Linked DNA regions of Homo sapiens. The protein of the gene in region 4 purifies or fractionates together with the protein of the main gene of each other region. This does not show direct contact. Each region holds a gene or a part of one and is shown on either strand. Other genes may lie near its edges.

Region 1 (3,791 bases), on a different chromosome or scaffold from region 4:
AATAAATGAGCTTTCTCTATTCTTCAACCACAGTCTCTTACAGACTCAGGCCCTCACCCCCAATAATGTCAAAATCACAGGTCCTACCTTGTTCCCAGAAGCATCTTTTCCCTTCCCTTCTTCCTCCACATGAAAGCGGAGGTTCTCCAGCAGGATGACAGACCCAGCAGCTGGGTTGGCACAGGCTTTCTCCACTTCTGGGCCTACACAGTCCTTCAAGAACAGAACATCCCTGAGAAGAGGAAGAGATGAAGACACTTGAGCAGTATGAAAGTTAAAAACCAGTAACAACGTGCTTGACAACTTCCCCCGCCACAAAGTCTACCAGCACCAGAGCCTGGCACTTACTTGCCCAGCAGAGATTTGAGTTCTACAGCAACTGGCTCTAAGGAGTACTTGTCAGGCATGGGCACACCATCAGGCCGGCCTAGGTGGCTCATAAGGACTACCGACTTGGCTCCATTGTCCAAGCAGAATTTGATGCTTGGGACAGCAGCCTTAATCCTGCAACCAAAGAGAGACAACAAACAGAATGAAGTTACTCCTAGAAATTAGTGGGAACTAGCTTATTGATAACCTCATAAAGCATAAAGCTCCTTTTCTTCTCCAAGTTCCTTCAAATCTACTATCAGTAATTCAATGGTGGTCCTTAAGAAGTTAAATGCAATGCCAACCCTCCACCTAGGATTGTACAATCTCATTATGTATCTGCCCCTTTCACAGACAAGAGTTAACACAGCAGGCCTGAGGCTACTATCTACAGAAGGACCTGTCTGCAAGATTAGATCCTGGCTGGTATCTGGGAACTTGGCTTTCAAAGTTAACTGACAAGACCAACAAGGGCTATTCACTCTTCCTAGACCGTCTATACAAACATGGTGATTTATGCTGAACACCTGCCCCACTCTAGAAGTCTAGAATTTTTTTTTTCTTTTCCTTTTTTTGTTGAGACAGGGTCTCACTCTGTCACCCAACAGGCTGGAGTGGAGAGGCACAATCTCAGCTCACTGCAGCTTCAACCTCCCCAGGGGCTTAGGTCATCTTCCTACCTCAGCCTCCCAAGTAGCTGGAACTACAGGAATGCACCACCATGCCCAGCTAATTTTTGTATTTTTTGTAGGGGTTTTACCATGTTGTCCAGGCTGGTCTTGAACTCCTGGGCTCAAGTTATCTGCAGGCCTCAGCCTCCCAAACTGCTGGGAATACAGGCGTGAGCCACCACACCCAGCAGAAGTTTGTAATTTTGGTAGTTGCTAGGCAGAGGATCCCTATGTTACCAGTTCCCAACAAAAATCTTGGGATCTGAGTCTCTAGCATGCTTCTCCAGGCAGAAACACTGCAGACAATTACTGCATTTTTCACTGCTGAAGAAAGGAAAACACTTGATGTGTCCCCTCACAGGAAACTGGAAGCCCATGGATTTCTCTAGACTCCCCCATGTCTTTTCCTCTTCCTAATCTTGTCATGCATTCTTTCACTGTAATAAACTTTAGCCATGAGAACAACTCTGAGTCCTAGCAAATCATCATGAGATATGTGGGTGATCTTGGGGACCCCTGAAAACACTTCTTATATGACTATGGAAAATACATAAAATTCTCAAATCTTGAAACCATCAAAGGAAATTTGGGGAAAAATAAAAAACATGTAGTAACTTTTCTGCACCTATTAATAGATCCTAAGTCACTTTTTTATGTAGGAAAAAATAATTGCACTGTCTAGAGCTTGGTTTCCATAATGTATCACATTCATTACATTATAAATTAATCAAAAAATTAACTCCCTTTAAACATTTAAAAGTTTTGTTATAAACCTGCTACTAACTTGCCATTTTGCCAGTTTATAAGAAATTAAAATTGATCAAGAAAAGCATTTATTTATTCATCAAATATTTATTGAATGCTTCTTTTGTGCCAGGCATCATTCCAGGTTCTGAGAATGAAACAGAAAACTTTTTTAAAAACTCTCTGTTCTCATGGAAGTGAAATTCTAATGGAGAGAGACAATAAACATGTATGTGTGTGTGCGTACATGTAATATATCAGATGGTGAGATACAGAAAAAAAACAAACCATTGTTCCCCATTTTTGTTCCCCTACTTTTGAGGACAAAAATGACCGGGGAACAATGGTAGAGGAGATTTTTAGACAGGATGGCCAGGGAAAGTCTGATATGATGACATCTGAGCAAAGAATGGAATGATTAAAAAAGTTATACTTTTAAAATATCTTATGTTATTAATATTTAGCAGATATAAGAACTCCTTTATATCAAATTTAAAAATCTGTATCAGGTACAAAGTTTGTGCAATGGAACCAATTAGTTTTCAGGACTATCCCTTATCAGCAAGTTTTATTATTTCTAATGCTTCATTTTGTTAATCAACTCCATGGATTTCCGGAAATGAAAAGATTTCCAAACATGTTTCTTTACTCTTAAAATAACTTGATAGGCATATTTCCAATCGTTTCTGTGTGTTGCACAATAATGAAGATCAAGCGGGATCAGATCTGCCTTATACAAAGACCCTGCCACTATGGTACAGCAGGGATGTGCTTGGCAAAATGACAGGCTCTATTCTAGGACCAATACCTGAAAATGTTCTGGGCTAGACCTGCACTGTCCATTACGACAGTCATTTAGTCATGTGTGTCTGTTGAGTACCAGATATATAACTAGATCAAATTGAGATGTGCTGTAGTATAAAAACACATGCCAGATCTTGAAGACTTAGTACCAAAAAAGTTAAATGTCCCTTTAATTTAATTAACACAATTTGGCTCACATTGTATTTCTATTAGATACCACTGGTCTAGATCATTAGAAAGCACCTTGCCAACACAAACCCTTCATTTAAAATTTAAAATAGGCGGAGCACAGTGACTCATGCCTGTATTCCCAGCACTTTGGGAGGCCAAGGTGGGCGGGGTCCAGGAGCTCAAGGCCAGCTTGGGCAAAAGGGCAAAACGCTGTCTCTACAAAAAAAATATGAAAAAGTAGCCAGGTGTGGTGGCCCACGCCTGTGGTCTCAGCTCCCTGGGAGGCTGAGATGGGAGGATCGCTTGAGCCCAGGAGGCAGAGATTGCAGTGAGCCAAGATCGTGCCACTGCACTCCAGCCTGGGCGACAGAACGAGGCCCTGTCTCAAAAAAAAAAAAAAATTAAATAAAAACCTTCTTGATGGATACCCCATTTAACCTGATGTGATTATGTATTGCATGCTTTTATCAAAATATCTCATGTAACCCATATATATATATATATAAAATCTACAAAAATTAAAAATTAAAAAAATTAAAAAGAAAGTAAAGACAAAAATAAAGACCTTTTATAATCTAGTCAAAAGCAAGAGCAGTACTCTCACTTAAAATTTGTTTCTGAATCTAGGATCCAAGACACTGGAGCAGCTAAACTGACTGAAAACGTACTTCTGAAGTCTTTCCTGTTTGTTTTTTTGGAAGCAAAAACAAATGAAAATTCTCAAAAATTGACTTATCTGAGCCATTTGAATGGGGGCTTGTAAAACTACATATAACCTTAGTAACTACTGGTACTTTTAAAATCCTTCTCTTACATAGTTCTTCATTTTGCAAGAGAAGCCAAGTAACCTTAAATTTTTATATTTTTTGTGTGTGTTTTATAGAGATGGTGTCTTACTATATTGGCCAGGCTGTTCTCGAACTACTGGCCTCAAGCAATCCTCCTGCCTCGGCCTTCCAAAGTGCTGGGATTACAGATGTGAGCCACCGCACCCAGCCAACTTTTATATTCTTTAAAAATGAATAACTCTGC
Region 2 (3,791 bases), on a different chromosome or scaffold from region 4:
GAAAAATGCAGTTTTCTGTACACGTCCAGCATAATTCATTCTAATCCAGAACTAATTGAAATTGGACTCAATGAAATAGGGGTTGCCACCGTGAAAGTGCATGGCTTTATCTTCAGGCGCAGCTACAAGGCACTGGGCTCTGTGTCCGCAGTGTTTTGTCAGACAGCGTTGGGTGAGAGGATTGGGTAACGACGGCCGTGACTCTCGCCTGAGTACTGGAAGGCCCGTCCTGGATGACACATCGCTTCCTCTCGTTTCAGTTGTCGACAACAGTAGCAACTGGGCAGTGTGTGGGAAAAGCTGCGGTGTCATCTCCATGCCAGTGGCTGCTCGGGCCACTCACAGGGTCCACATGGAAGTGATGCCGCTCTTCGCCGGGTATCTCCCCCTGCCCGACGTCAGGCTGTTCAAGTACCTCCCCCATCATTCTGCACACTCCTCCCAACTGGACGCTGGTAAGGACTTTGGAAGAAAAAGTTTACCTTCAGTATTTGAGCAGGTGAGCACTTTGTGCGAGAGGTGATAAACTTATGACTGAGCAGGTTGGAGAACTAGCGGCGTGTTTTCAGTGCCGGTAGAAACTGGTACTAGAAGCCTCATCCGCTGTTAGAATCTTAGGCACCTGCTCTGAAAGCCAAGCCTCTGTGCACAGAGTGCTCTGTAAAGGGGCAGCCTCGGGTGGCATTCTGCACGTTCAGCCTGGCTCCGTGTGGCTTTGCCCGTCCCCAGGTGAGTGTCGGCGCAGCTTGGGTCTAACTTCCTGTGTGTTTTGCAGACAGCTGGATAGAAAACGACAGCCTGTCAGTAGACAAGCACGGGGACGACCAGCCGGACAGCAGCAGCCTCAAGAGCAGGGGCAGCGTGCATTCGGCCTGCAGCAGCGAGCACAAAGGCCTACCCATGCCCCGGCTGCAGGCACTGCCGGCCGGCCAGGTCTTCAACTCCAGCTCGGGCACACAAGTCCTGGTCATCCCCAGCCAAGATGACCACGTCCTGGAAGTCAGTGTAACATGACAACGCCAGGGTGAACACACGCCACTTCCCAGCTAGGAGTGCACTTTATGGGACTGTGACTGGACTCTTCCGTTCTGGCTCCAGCCAGACCTTCAGTGGTCCTGCCTGGCCGTGGGGACATCAGAGAGTGTCATCACGCAGCTGGCCAGCTGAGTTCTGTTGTTGTTTTCATGCCGCCTGTGATCTCAGATTCCTGCTTTTCTCACCCCGTCCCCATGCTGGTGTCCGACGCCGCTTACTCAGAGCCCTGGCCTCCCTCCCCCTACCTCACACGCTGCTCATGAAAGTTTCCACCCACGCTGTCTCCACGGAACAGCCTCCGTCTGCTGGCTCTTCGTGGAAGGCCATTTGTCTTTCAGGTAGACACTCAGCAGCCCTCACGGTCTTAGTGACGTGTGTGCCTTTCTGGTCACACAGCTGCCCAGTTTCCTGATCGGGGTGGATTTGTGTCCCCTAAGGGGTAAAACAGCCGTTTACCGCAGATCCTCTCATTGTGCTTTTCTAGAATAACACCCTTCTAGGGGAGGCGGGTGGGGGAGGGAGGGATCATAACCCCTTCTGTGCCTTGGGATGCCGGAGCTGGGGGACCTGGAGGCCCATCAGCCGGAGCCACGTGAAAGGTACTGAAGAAAGCTGAGACCCGGCTGTGAGGAGCGCCTCAGCGGTGAGGTGGTTTAGGGATAAATGTTTCTGGAACCCTGTGGTCCCCCATAATGTTGATAGAATATCATATGCACTGGGAGTTAAATATATTTAATTTAATGATCATTATATATGTGGGGGTTAATATGTTGTTTTTCTGTCCCTTTAAAGTCTTTACATGTAATTGTAGCTGTATAATCGTTATTTTTCTTTTGCATCTTAAGTCTTAGAAATTAAGATATTCCATCGTGAGGATGAGAGAGGTCCTCAGTGTGTTTTTGGTCTGGTTGTAGGGAAGGACTCAAGTCCTGGAATGTCCTCCACTGGTCTACTGAGTTGCAGTCACACTGTTCCAATGGATTATTTGCTTTCGGTTGTAAATTTAATTGTACATATGGTTGATTTATTATTTTTAAAAATACAGACTAACTGATGTAATGTTTATGTATAAGTTGCACCAAAAATCAAGGACAAAAATAAGTGTGTTTGTTTTTACAGGTGTGAAAGTCACAGCTTGTAAATAAGTGTTGTATGTATTAAACCTTTTCCAGTTCTCCAAAGCGATGTATTTTTGTACACTTGAAATAGAGTACTCTTAATTTACTGGGCAAATGTGCTTGGAATTGAACTTGACAAGATTAGCTCAAGCAGATAGAGTCGGGTCCAGCAGTGGGTGGCCCTCGTGTGAATCCCCGTGGATGTGCAAGTTGTGGAGAGAAGGAGCACCGGGTTCCTGCCCAGCACTGTGCTTGCGGGAGGCGGTGGGGCATGGGAGGAAGGAGGCACAGACCGGGGAAATATGACAGCCGTCATTTCCAGTATTCTCTGTGTTGTCTTTTAGCTCATTCAATAAATAAAGGTGGTGTGATTTTTTTTTCCTCCTGTCTTTTTCATTTGTAGAAACTGGAGACGTGTAAAGAAGATAAATAATTGTGTAATTAAACTTTCCAGAAATTTATCTTCCTCATGTGCAGTTTAACAAACTTGGTCAAACTAGTTAGCAAATTAGAACTTCAGAATCTAATGATAGTTTAGGGTTTCTAAAATAAGGTTTTTTATTGTAAAAATTGACGATTGCCCTGCATTTCTACCAAGTCCTGTGAATAAAGAGATGGGAGATTTGATTCCGTCAGAAGAGACTGTAATCCGTGTCGTCAGCCTGGGAGCCTTCCCCAGTGTAATGTAGCTTTCTCTCTTACCTTCTGGAAGAGGGAATGTTTCATTTATTACTGTTTGATTTTCTTGTATCTGGTTCTACTCCCAGGATGAAATTATCCAACTACATATATATTTAGAGGAAGAAAGTGAAGGGGAAATTTAAAATGTTTACGGCGCTTAATTGCCTGGAAATGAAATGAAATCAAATTTATCAGTTTTTTTCCCCCTAATTACCCAAAAGATCTTTTGCAAACTATGTTACATGAATGCTTCTGCCTCTTTAAGACAAAGAAGAATGTCACCCAAAATTGTCATTTTTTTCTTAATGTTCATCATAAAAGTCCTAAAAGAGTAACTGTAATTGGATGTTTATTGTTTTTATCTAAAGTAAGGTGTATGTGTTTGAGACAAGCTGGTTTTGTTGATAAAGAGATGTTAAATAATTGTGAAGCCAGATATGCAATGTGTATCTGAAAAGCAAGGAATTTGCAGCCGTTTTACAAATATCTGTGGAACATGTAAATACTGTCAAATGGAAAATAAAATAAGTTATAATTTTTGTGAATTTCATGGGATGTCCTATGATTGGAAAAATTATAACTCTTCTGATTCTAATGTGGAAATTGTTGTATTTAATCTGAAAATGACTTTACCTACAACAGTTCCATTGTCAGCACAGCCTAGGAAGGTCAGATCCTGTATTAATTACTCTTAGTGGAGATGCCAGATATCCCATACAGAATTAGCAGAGAAAATACACACAGGCTTCTATTCAAATTTTCTTTAGTGCTTAAAATTAAGTTTTAAAATGAAATCAGACACTGCAGGTTTGTATATAAAATGAAAAGCTATACTACTTTTTACAAAAGGGCAAACTGGGCTGATGTAAATGTTTTACTTTCAACTGTGTTCTTTAAAATAAATCCTACCTGGTTTTTAAATTTTATTTTTCATGAAAATGCTCCTTTCTCTACATT
Region 3 (3,791 bases), on a different chromosome or scaffold from region 4:
GATGTTAGACCCCAAATACACTGCCTTTGCCTCTCTCCCAAGGTCTCATTTAAGTATCCCAAAGTATTTTTTTTTTTTGAGACAGTCTTGCTCTGTCACTCATGCTGGAGTGCAGTGGCGTGATCGTGGCTCACTGCAACCTCTGCCCCCCGGGTTCAAGCGATTCACCTGCCTCAGCTTCCCAAGTAGCTGGGATTACAGGTGTGCACCACCGTGTCCATCTAATCTGACAACACATCATTAGTGTTTTGTAGTGTAGTGCGGAAGGCATTAGTCTATTTCGGACAGGCAGGAGAGGAGTTTAGGAAAGGAGTGATGGGGGGTGGGGGACGTTTTAGCTGTGTATGGTCTTGTTTAATTGGCTTTTAATTTCAGGCTGCATGAGTTGTCATTGGAGGGACTAGATTTTATGGAGAACAGACTTAAAGAAACTCAGAACTTGGCTGGGTGCAGTGGCTCATGCCTGTAATCCCAGCACTTTGGGAGGCTGAGGCGGATCACCTGAGGTCAGGAGTTTGAGACCAGCTTGGCCAACATGACGAAACCCTGTCTCTACTAAAAATACAAAAAGTAGCCGGGTGTGGCGTCGGGCACCTGTAATCACAGCTCCTGAGGAGGCTGAGGCGGGAGAATTGTTTGAACCTGGGAGGCAGAGGTTGCAGTAAGCCGAGATTACGCCACTGCGCTCCAGCCTGGGCCACAAGGGTGAAATTCTGTCTCAAAAAAAGAGAAGAAAAAAAAAAGAAACTGAGAACTCTGGTATGGAAAGATGAATGTGGAGAAAAGCTGTAGTCAGAGTTCAAATCATCTTTAAAGTACACATGAACTCGCTTGCTCACTAAACCCAAAGATGGTAAAATAGGCAGTATTTCTTGAAGCCAAAGGAGTGGGTTTTTCAGGTTATCCAAGAATGAATCAAAGGCTGGAACTGAGGTGATCAGGGGTCAAGCGCGGACTTTGCTTGGCCATCTCTTTTGGATGGTGCACTCAACAAGGGCACTGACTGTTTACAAAGTGTCCTTCCTCTAGCATGTGGTGGGTATACCTGGTAGTCTAGGAACCTTCCAGGTATCTGTCCAAGGCATAGGGCACAGCATCCCTGTTTCAGCCATCTCTCCATCCATCTTCTTCCCAACACTGTGATTTTTTTTTTTTTTTTTTTGAGATGGAGCCTCGCTCTTGTTGTGCTGAAGTGCAGTGGCGCGATCTCGGTTCACTGCTAACTTCCACCTCCCAGGTTCAAGTGATTCTCCTGCCTCAGCCTCCTGAGTAGCTGGGACTATAGGCACCCACCATCACGCCCGGCTAATTTTTATATTTTTAGTTGAGATGGGGTTTCACTATGTTGGCCAGGCTGGTCTCGAACTCCTGACCTCAGGTAATCTGCCTGCCTTAGCCTCCCAAAGTGCTGAGATTATCGGCATGAGCCACGTTGCCTGGCCTCAACACTGTGATTCTTTTTTTTTTTTTTTTTTTTTTTTTAGATGGAGTCTTGCTCTGTGCCCAGGCTAGAGTGCAGTGGCGCAATCCCGGCTCACTGCAAGTTCCGTCTCCCAAGTTCACGCCATTCTCCTGCCTCAGCCTCCCAAGTAGCTGGGACTACAGGTGCCTGCCACCACGCCTGGCTAATTTTTTGTATTTTTAGTAGAGACGGGGTTTCACTGTGTTGGCCAGGATGATCCTGATCTCCTGACCTTGTGATCTGCCCACCTCATCCTCCCAAAGTGCTAGGATTACAGGCGTGAGCCACCGCGCCCGGCCTCCAACACTGTGATTCTTTATGGACCTATCTCCTCTACTACTTCATGAAGTTTTGAGGGACCAGGTCTTATTGAAGTTTTTGTTTTGTTTTGCTTTGTTTTCATTCTTACTTTTGAATGATTAAAACTGAAAATGGATCCAATTACTTTAGACAGATGCTTTATAAAGGAAAATCCTTGGTGCATGCCTCATACCCCTACTCCGGGATATGAGAAAGTAGGTTATGTTTTTAACAAACTTTTTTGATAGACATATATGGAAAGTTTGTATAATTTTGAAGATGTATTTTCTCTCCATGTAATTATGGCTGGAAATAGCCGGAGAGAGGAGCAGAGTGTGTTTTCAAACCTGGGAATGTGTGGGGCCTGCTGTTTCCCATCCGGCATTCTCCCACGGTCATCATTTAGTTGAGTGCGGCCACCAGGCTGCCCCTACACATCTGTCACTGACTTGTTCTTCTGATCACTGCAAGTGCCCACGTTTGAGAAGGCTGATGAGGGTTAAGGCATTTTCTAGAGCATCAGTGGCTGGTTAACTTGGGGTTAGAACTTGTGGTGTCAAAGGCATTAACTAACAGTGATATTTCTGTTTCTTGAACACTCACTGAGAGTTTTAGGCTTATGCTCAGTGTTTGCATTATTTCATTGAGTCTTTTTGACAATCGTAATTAGATTTGATGATCCCTGTTTCTTAGGGATATGCAGATGTGGCCCTGGAACTCAGGACTTTACAGCTCCAGGCTGTATTCCTCCCTCTCCATCCTGCCAGAGACAAGTCCTGTGTCTGGAGTTTCCCTCTGATCTTGTCACTTTATTTCTTATTAACAGAATAAAGCAGGTCTAAACTTACTTTCTACTTGGAAATGGAATGGTGAGTTAATATTTGGATCCCTCAGAGTCTGCCTTGTGAATAAAGCTCCTTGTCTTGAGTAGTCTTGGAGCCACTTTCGTTGGAACCTCACATAAACATCTGGGCCCTGAACTTGGACTTCGTGACTGTGCAGCCTATTGAAAGATTAGAACAAAGATGTGCTGATTAATATGCCCTAAAAGAGCAGCAGGTTGGAAATGAGTTTGGGGATTTCATCTCATTTCAAGATTTCCTGAGGATCTTGGCCTAGCTTTGCCAGGGACCATTTTGTACTCCCCGGCTCCTTGTGCCATAGGTGCCTGTGTCGACCAAACATGGCTTTGTCCTGAGGCTCTCTGGGCTCATGGCTTCTCAGTCAATTGTCTGCCTAGTGCCCAAAAGCAGTTGCGCTCGAGCTTTTCCCATTAAGGAACCGTTTTAGGGCTTTAAAGTGATGTCAATTCCATTTGCAATGTAGTATTTATCATTTGACTTCTTATTACACTGAAATGATAAGAGGAATGAAGTAATATTATTACTGATCATAGTATTATTTACAACCTTTCATCTTAGATAGGTTCCATGAAAGAATCAATGGGAGTTCTAACGCATTGGTGGCCAAGGCATGTGACCTTCCCCGGCTGTCACCTTTATTTTAGATGGTGACCTCTTTACAGGCACTGGCTAAGATCAGTATTCGTCTTCTCTGCCCCCTTCTCTGCCCCAACATCTTTGATCATGTCTGGCACATAGTGGGTGCAGCTGAAGGTCTGGGCATTTCCAGATTTGTGATGAAGGCGTTAAGTACCCCCACCTCTTCTTTTTCTTTTTTTCTTTTCTTTTCTTTTTTTTTTTGACATGGAGTTTCACTCTTGTTGCCCAGGCTGGAGTGTAATGGCACAATCTTGGCTCACTGCAACCTCCGCCTCCTGGGTTCAAGCAATTCTTCTGCTTCAGCCTCTCAAGTAGCTGGGATTACAGGTATGCACCACCACGCCTGGCTAATTTTGTATTTTTTAGTAGAGACGGGGTTTCTCCATGTTGGTCAGGCTGGTCTCGAACTCCCAACCTCAGGTGATCTGCCTGCCTCGGCCTCCCAAAGTGCTGGGATTACAGGTGTGCGCCACTGCGCCCGGCCAACCCCTGCCTCCTCTTTACAGTCCTCTTCCACCCCGTCCCTG
Region 4 (4,083 bases):
TAGGAGCTGTGGGAAGAGAACCACCATCCTGCAGACCCAAGAATGATAGATTCACTGGCAGCTTGCACCCTGCACCTGCAAAAGCTATAGGCACTCAAAGCCATCCCATGAGAGCAACCTCAGGAGCCCCTGCAAAGCCACAGGGACAGAGCTGCCTAAGGCCTTGGGAGCCCATTCCTTGCACCAGTGTGCCCTAGATGTGGGACATGGAGTCAAAGGGTATTATTTTGGAGCTTTAAGATTTAGTGGCTGCCCTGCTGAGTTTTGAACTTTCATGGGTCCTGTAGCTCCTTTCTTTTGACCAATTTCCCCCTTTTGGAATGAGAATATTTACCTAATGCCTTTACCCGCTTTGTATCTTGGGAGTAACTAACTTGTTTTGATTTTGCAGGCTCATAGGTAAAAGGAGATGAGTATCAGATGAGACTTTGGACTTGAACTTGGGACTTTTAAGTTAATGCTAGAGGAAGTTAAGACTTTGGGGGACTATTGGGAAGAGATTATTGTATTTTGAAATTCAAGAAGGGCATGAGATTTGGGAGGGGCCGGGGCAGAATAATACAGTTTAGATTTGTGTCTCCACCCAAATTTCATATTGAAATGTAATCCCCAGTATTGAAAGTGGGACCTGGTGGGAGGTGACTGGATCATGAGGGTGGATTTCTCATGAATAGCTTAGCACTATCTTCTTGGTGCTATCCTCACTACAGTGAGTAACTTCTTGTGAGATCTGGTCATTTAAAACAGTGTGGCACCTTGCTCTCTCTTTCATTCCCACTCCTGTTATGTGAGAAGCCTGCTCCCTCTTTGCCTTCTGCCATGTAAGCTTCCTGAGGCCTCCCCAGAAGCAGATGGTGGTGACAGGAAGCACATGCTTCCTGTAGAGCCTGCAGAACTGTGGGCCAATTAAATCTCTTTTCTTATAAATTACACAGTTTCAGGTATTTATTTATAGCAAAGCAAGAATGGCCTCATACAGACATTAAAAGAAAAAAGAAAGAAAATATTGCGTCTATTAGTAGTGAATATAATGATACTTCTTTTCCAGGTAATCCAGGGCTCCCTTACCTTTTCTTCATAATTTGGTAGTTTATCTTTGCATATGGTTATGATGTCCATCCAGGAGTAGTTCCTCTCTCTTCGGATCTTTTCTAATTCTGGATCATTCTCATATTTGTCAGCATCCAGCTAAAAGAGTTAACCCACCAAAAACAAGAGCTCAGATTAACAAGGAGATGTAGAAACATTCTCTTTCTGGATCTCCAATATGATTTTATACTCCAAATTTATCATTTGTTATTTTTTCAACCCTCAACTAACTCTCTTCATCTCCTCTAGCCATTTAATGGATTTTCCATTCTCCAAAACACCAGCTATACATACAATGGAGTTCTGTTTGATTTCTGCCTCCCTTCTCTGCAACAGTCCATCCCAGGGGATTCTTTTTCCCATTTTGAGATGGTAGTCTCACCACCTCAGGCCTTTCTGTCCACTCCACAGGTCCCTCACTGTGCCCTGTTTCTCTGCCACCATCCCACTCATGAGTCTCATTGATCCTCAATGCCATCTCTTTGGTCAGTTTGTTTCCATGAGCCAAAACATTGTATGCTCTCACAGCTTGCAAATAAAACTCAAGTTAATTAAACTGGAATGAGAAACCTTCTATCATCTGGCCCCAGCTGACTTTTCTACTTCTATCTGTTCCCATCTCCTACTTTTTAAAGAACTCTACATTCTAAACCAAATAGGATGATCGGCTATCTTAAAAATATTTGATATTTCACATCCCCACAACCTTGCTCATGACAGCTTTCTATGCCTAAAATTCCCATTCAACATTTTCATTTATCACAATCCTATCTCTATTAAGGTTCAGTTTTACTGTTCCTTCCTGACGAAGCACTTCCCTGATGAAGCTCCAGGCAGAATTCATCTGAACTCTTATTTAAAACTACTGGCAGTGAATCTAGCACACTTTATGTTTTGCAATAAACTGCACATTATATCATCACTACTTACTGAACAACAAACTCCAGTGTTGCAGGAAGTCAGGGACCCCGAATGGAGGGACCGGCTGGAGCCATGGCAGAGGAACATAAGTTTTGAAGATTTCACGGACATCTATCAGTTCTCAAATAATACTTTTATAATTTATTATGCCTGTCTTTAATCTCTTAATCCTGTTATCTTCGTAAGCTGAGGATGTATGTCACCTCAGGACCACTGTGATAATTGTGTTAACTGTACAAATTGATTGTAAAACATGTGTGTTTGAACAATATGAAATCAGTACACCTTAAAAAATAAAATAACAGCGATTTTTAGGGAACAAGGGAAGACAACCATAAGGTTTGACTGCCTGCAGGGTCAGGCAAAAACACCCATATTTTTCTTCTTGCAGAGAGCCTATAAATGGGCGTGCAAGTAGAGAAGGTATCACTAAATTCTTTTCCTAGGAAGGAATATTAATATTAATACTCTGGGGAAGGAATGCATTTCTGGGGGGAGGTCTATAAACAGCTGCTCTGGGAATGTCTGTCTTATGCGGTTGAGATAAGGACTGAGATACGCCCTGGTCTTCTGCAGTACCCTCAGGCTTACTAAGGTGGGGAAAAACTCCACCCTGGTAAATTTGTGGTCAGACCAGTTCTCTGCTCTCGAACCCTGTTTTCTGTTATTTAAGATGTTTATCAAGACAATATGTGCAGCACTGAACATAGATCTTTATCAGTGGTTCTGCTTTTGCCCTTTGCCCTGTGATCTTTGTTGGACCCTTATCAGTGGTTCTGCTTTTGCCCTTTGTCCTGTTCCCTCAGAAGCATGTGATCTTTGTTAGACCCTTATTAGTAGTTCTGCTTTTTGCCCTTTGAAGCCTGTGATATTTGTACCTACTCCCTGTTCTTACACCCCCTCCCCTTTTGAAACCCTTAATAAAAACTTGCTGGTCTGAGACTCAGGCGGGCATCACGGTCCTACCGATATGTGATGTCACCCCTGGCGGCCCAGCTGTAAAATTCCTCTCTTTATACTGTCTCTCTTTATTTCTCAGCTGGCCGACACTTATGGAAAATGGAACCTATGTTGAAATATTGGGGGTGGGTTCCCCCGATACTCCAGAACATATTAAAGTACTAGTCATCAATACGTTATTTTCTACAAAGTTGACTCTAAAACTTAGCCTATCCACTGCATGATATGCACAGTACTATTTGCTATGGTCTGAATGTGTCCATATTATGACACATAATATGTAATATGACACATTATATGACACGTGTCATAAGTTTAAATATACGAATGTTGAAACTTAACACAAATGTGATAGTATTAAGGGGTGGGACCTTTAGGATGTGATTAAGTCATGAGGGCAAGCCCTCATTTATAGGATTAGTGGCCTTGTAAGAGAGATGGAGCTGGGCACTGTGGCTCACACCTATAATCCCAGAACTTTGGGAGGCCAAGGTGGGCAGATCACCTGAGGTCAGGGGTTCAAGACCAGCCTGTCCAACATGGTGAAACCCCATCTCTACTAAAAATACAAAAATTAGCCAGGCATGGTGGTCCACGCCTGTGATCCCAGCTACTCGGGAGGCTGAGGCAGGAGAATCACTTGAATCCAGGAGGCAGAGGTTGCAGTGAGCCAAGACTGCGCTACCAGCCTGGGTGACAGAGCGAGGCTCCATCTCAAAAAAAAAAAAAAAAAAAAAAAAGAGCAAGAGAGATGTAAGAGAGCAGTTTGCCCCTTCCACCACATGAGGACAGAGCAAGGAAATGGCCGTCTATGAGGACAGGATCCTCATCAGACACTAAATCTGCTGGCACCTTAATCTTGGACTTCTTAGCCTCTAGAACTATAAGAATTCTATAAATTGCTGTTGTTTATAAATTGCCCAGTTTAAGCTATTTTTGTCATTTTGTTATAGCAGCAGGTATTTAGTTTATTCCAAGCTAAAATAATCTTCCAATTGTTTGTATGTATGACAAAAGGTTTTTTAGAACTCTATGTCACTAATAACAGATTGATTAAACAGATACACAAACATGTCCACATGTGTTACCTCTGTTAAAAATTATGGGAGATGT

The links.
Region 1: the proteins of ADI1 (region 4) and PGK1 fractionate together in Homo sapiens (co-fractionation; one large-scale study listed by BioGRID). This does not show direct contact.
Region 2: the proteins of ADI1 (region 4) and TRAPPC10 purify together in Homo sapiens (affinity purification with mass spectrometry; one large-scale study listed by BioGRID and IntAct). This does not show direct contact.
Region 3: the proteins of ADI1 (region 4) and TRAPPC9 purify together in Homo sapiens (affinity purification with mass spectrometry; one large-scale study listed by BioGRID and IntAct). This does not show direct contact.

The regions. Positions count from the first base shown.
Region 1 is NC_000023.11:78,110,457-78,114,247, reverse strand, and holds part of PGK1 (phosphoglycerate kinase 1), read right to left. Parts: intron 505-3,791; coding exon 349-504; intron 233-348; coding exon 88-232; intron 1-87. UniProt on the Homo sapiens protein: Catalyzes one of the two ATP producing reactions in the glycolytic pathway via the reversible conversion of 1,3-diphosphoglycerate to 3-phosphoglycerate.
Region 2 is NC_000021.9:44,102,518-44,106,308, forward strand, and holds part of TRAPPC10 (trafficking protein particle complex subunit 10), read left to right. Parts: intron 1-260; coding exon 261-455; intron 456-775; coding exon 776-1,014; 3' UTR 1,015-3,791. UniProt on the Homo sapiens protein: Specific subunit of the TRAPP (transport protein particle) II complex, a highly conserved vesicle tethering complex that functions in late Golgi trafficking as a membrane tether.
Region 3 is NC_000008.11:140,374,245-140,378,035, reverse strand, and holds part of TRAPPC9 (trafficking protein particle complex subunit 9), read left to right. Parts: intron 1-3,791. UniProt on the Homo sapiens protein: Functions as an activator of NF-kappa-B through increased phosphorylation of the IKK complex. May function in neuronal cells differentiation. May play a role in vesicular transport from endoplasmic reticulum to Golgi.
Region 4 is NC_000002.12:3,512,789-3,516,871, forward strand, and holds part of ADI1 (acireductone dioxygenase), read right to left. Parts: exon of another isoform or gene 2,122-4,083; coding exon of another isoform or gene 2,020-2,121; intron 1,189-2,019; coding exon 1,069-1,188; intron 1-1,068. UniProt on the Homo sapiens protein: Catalyzes 2 different reactions between oxygen and the acireductone 1,2-dihydroxy-3-keto-5-methylthiopentene (DHK-MTPene) depending upon the metal bound in the active site.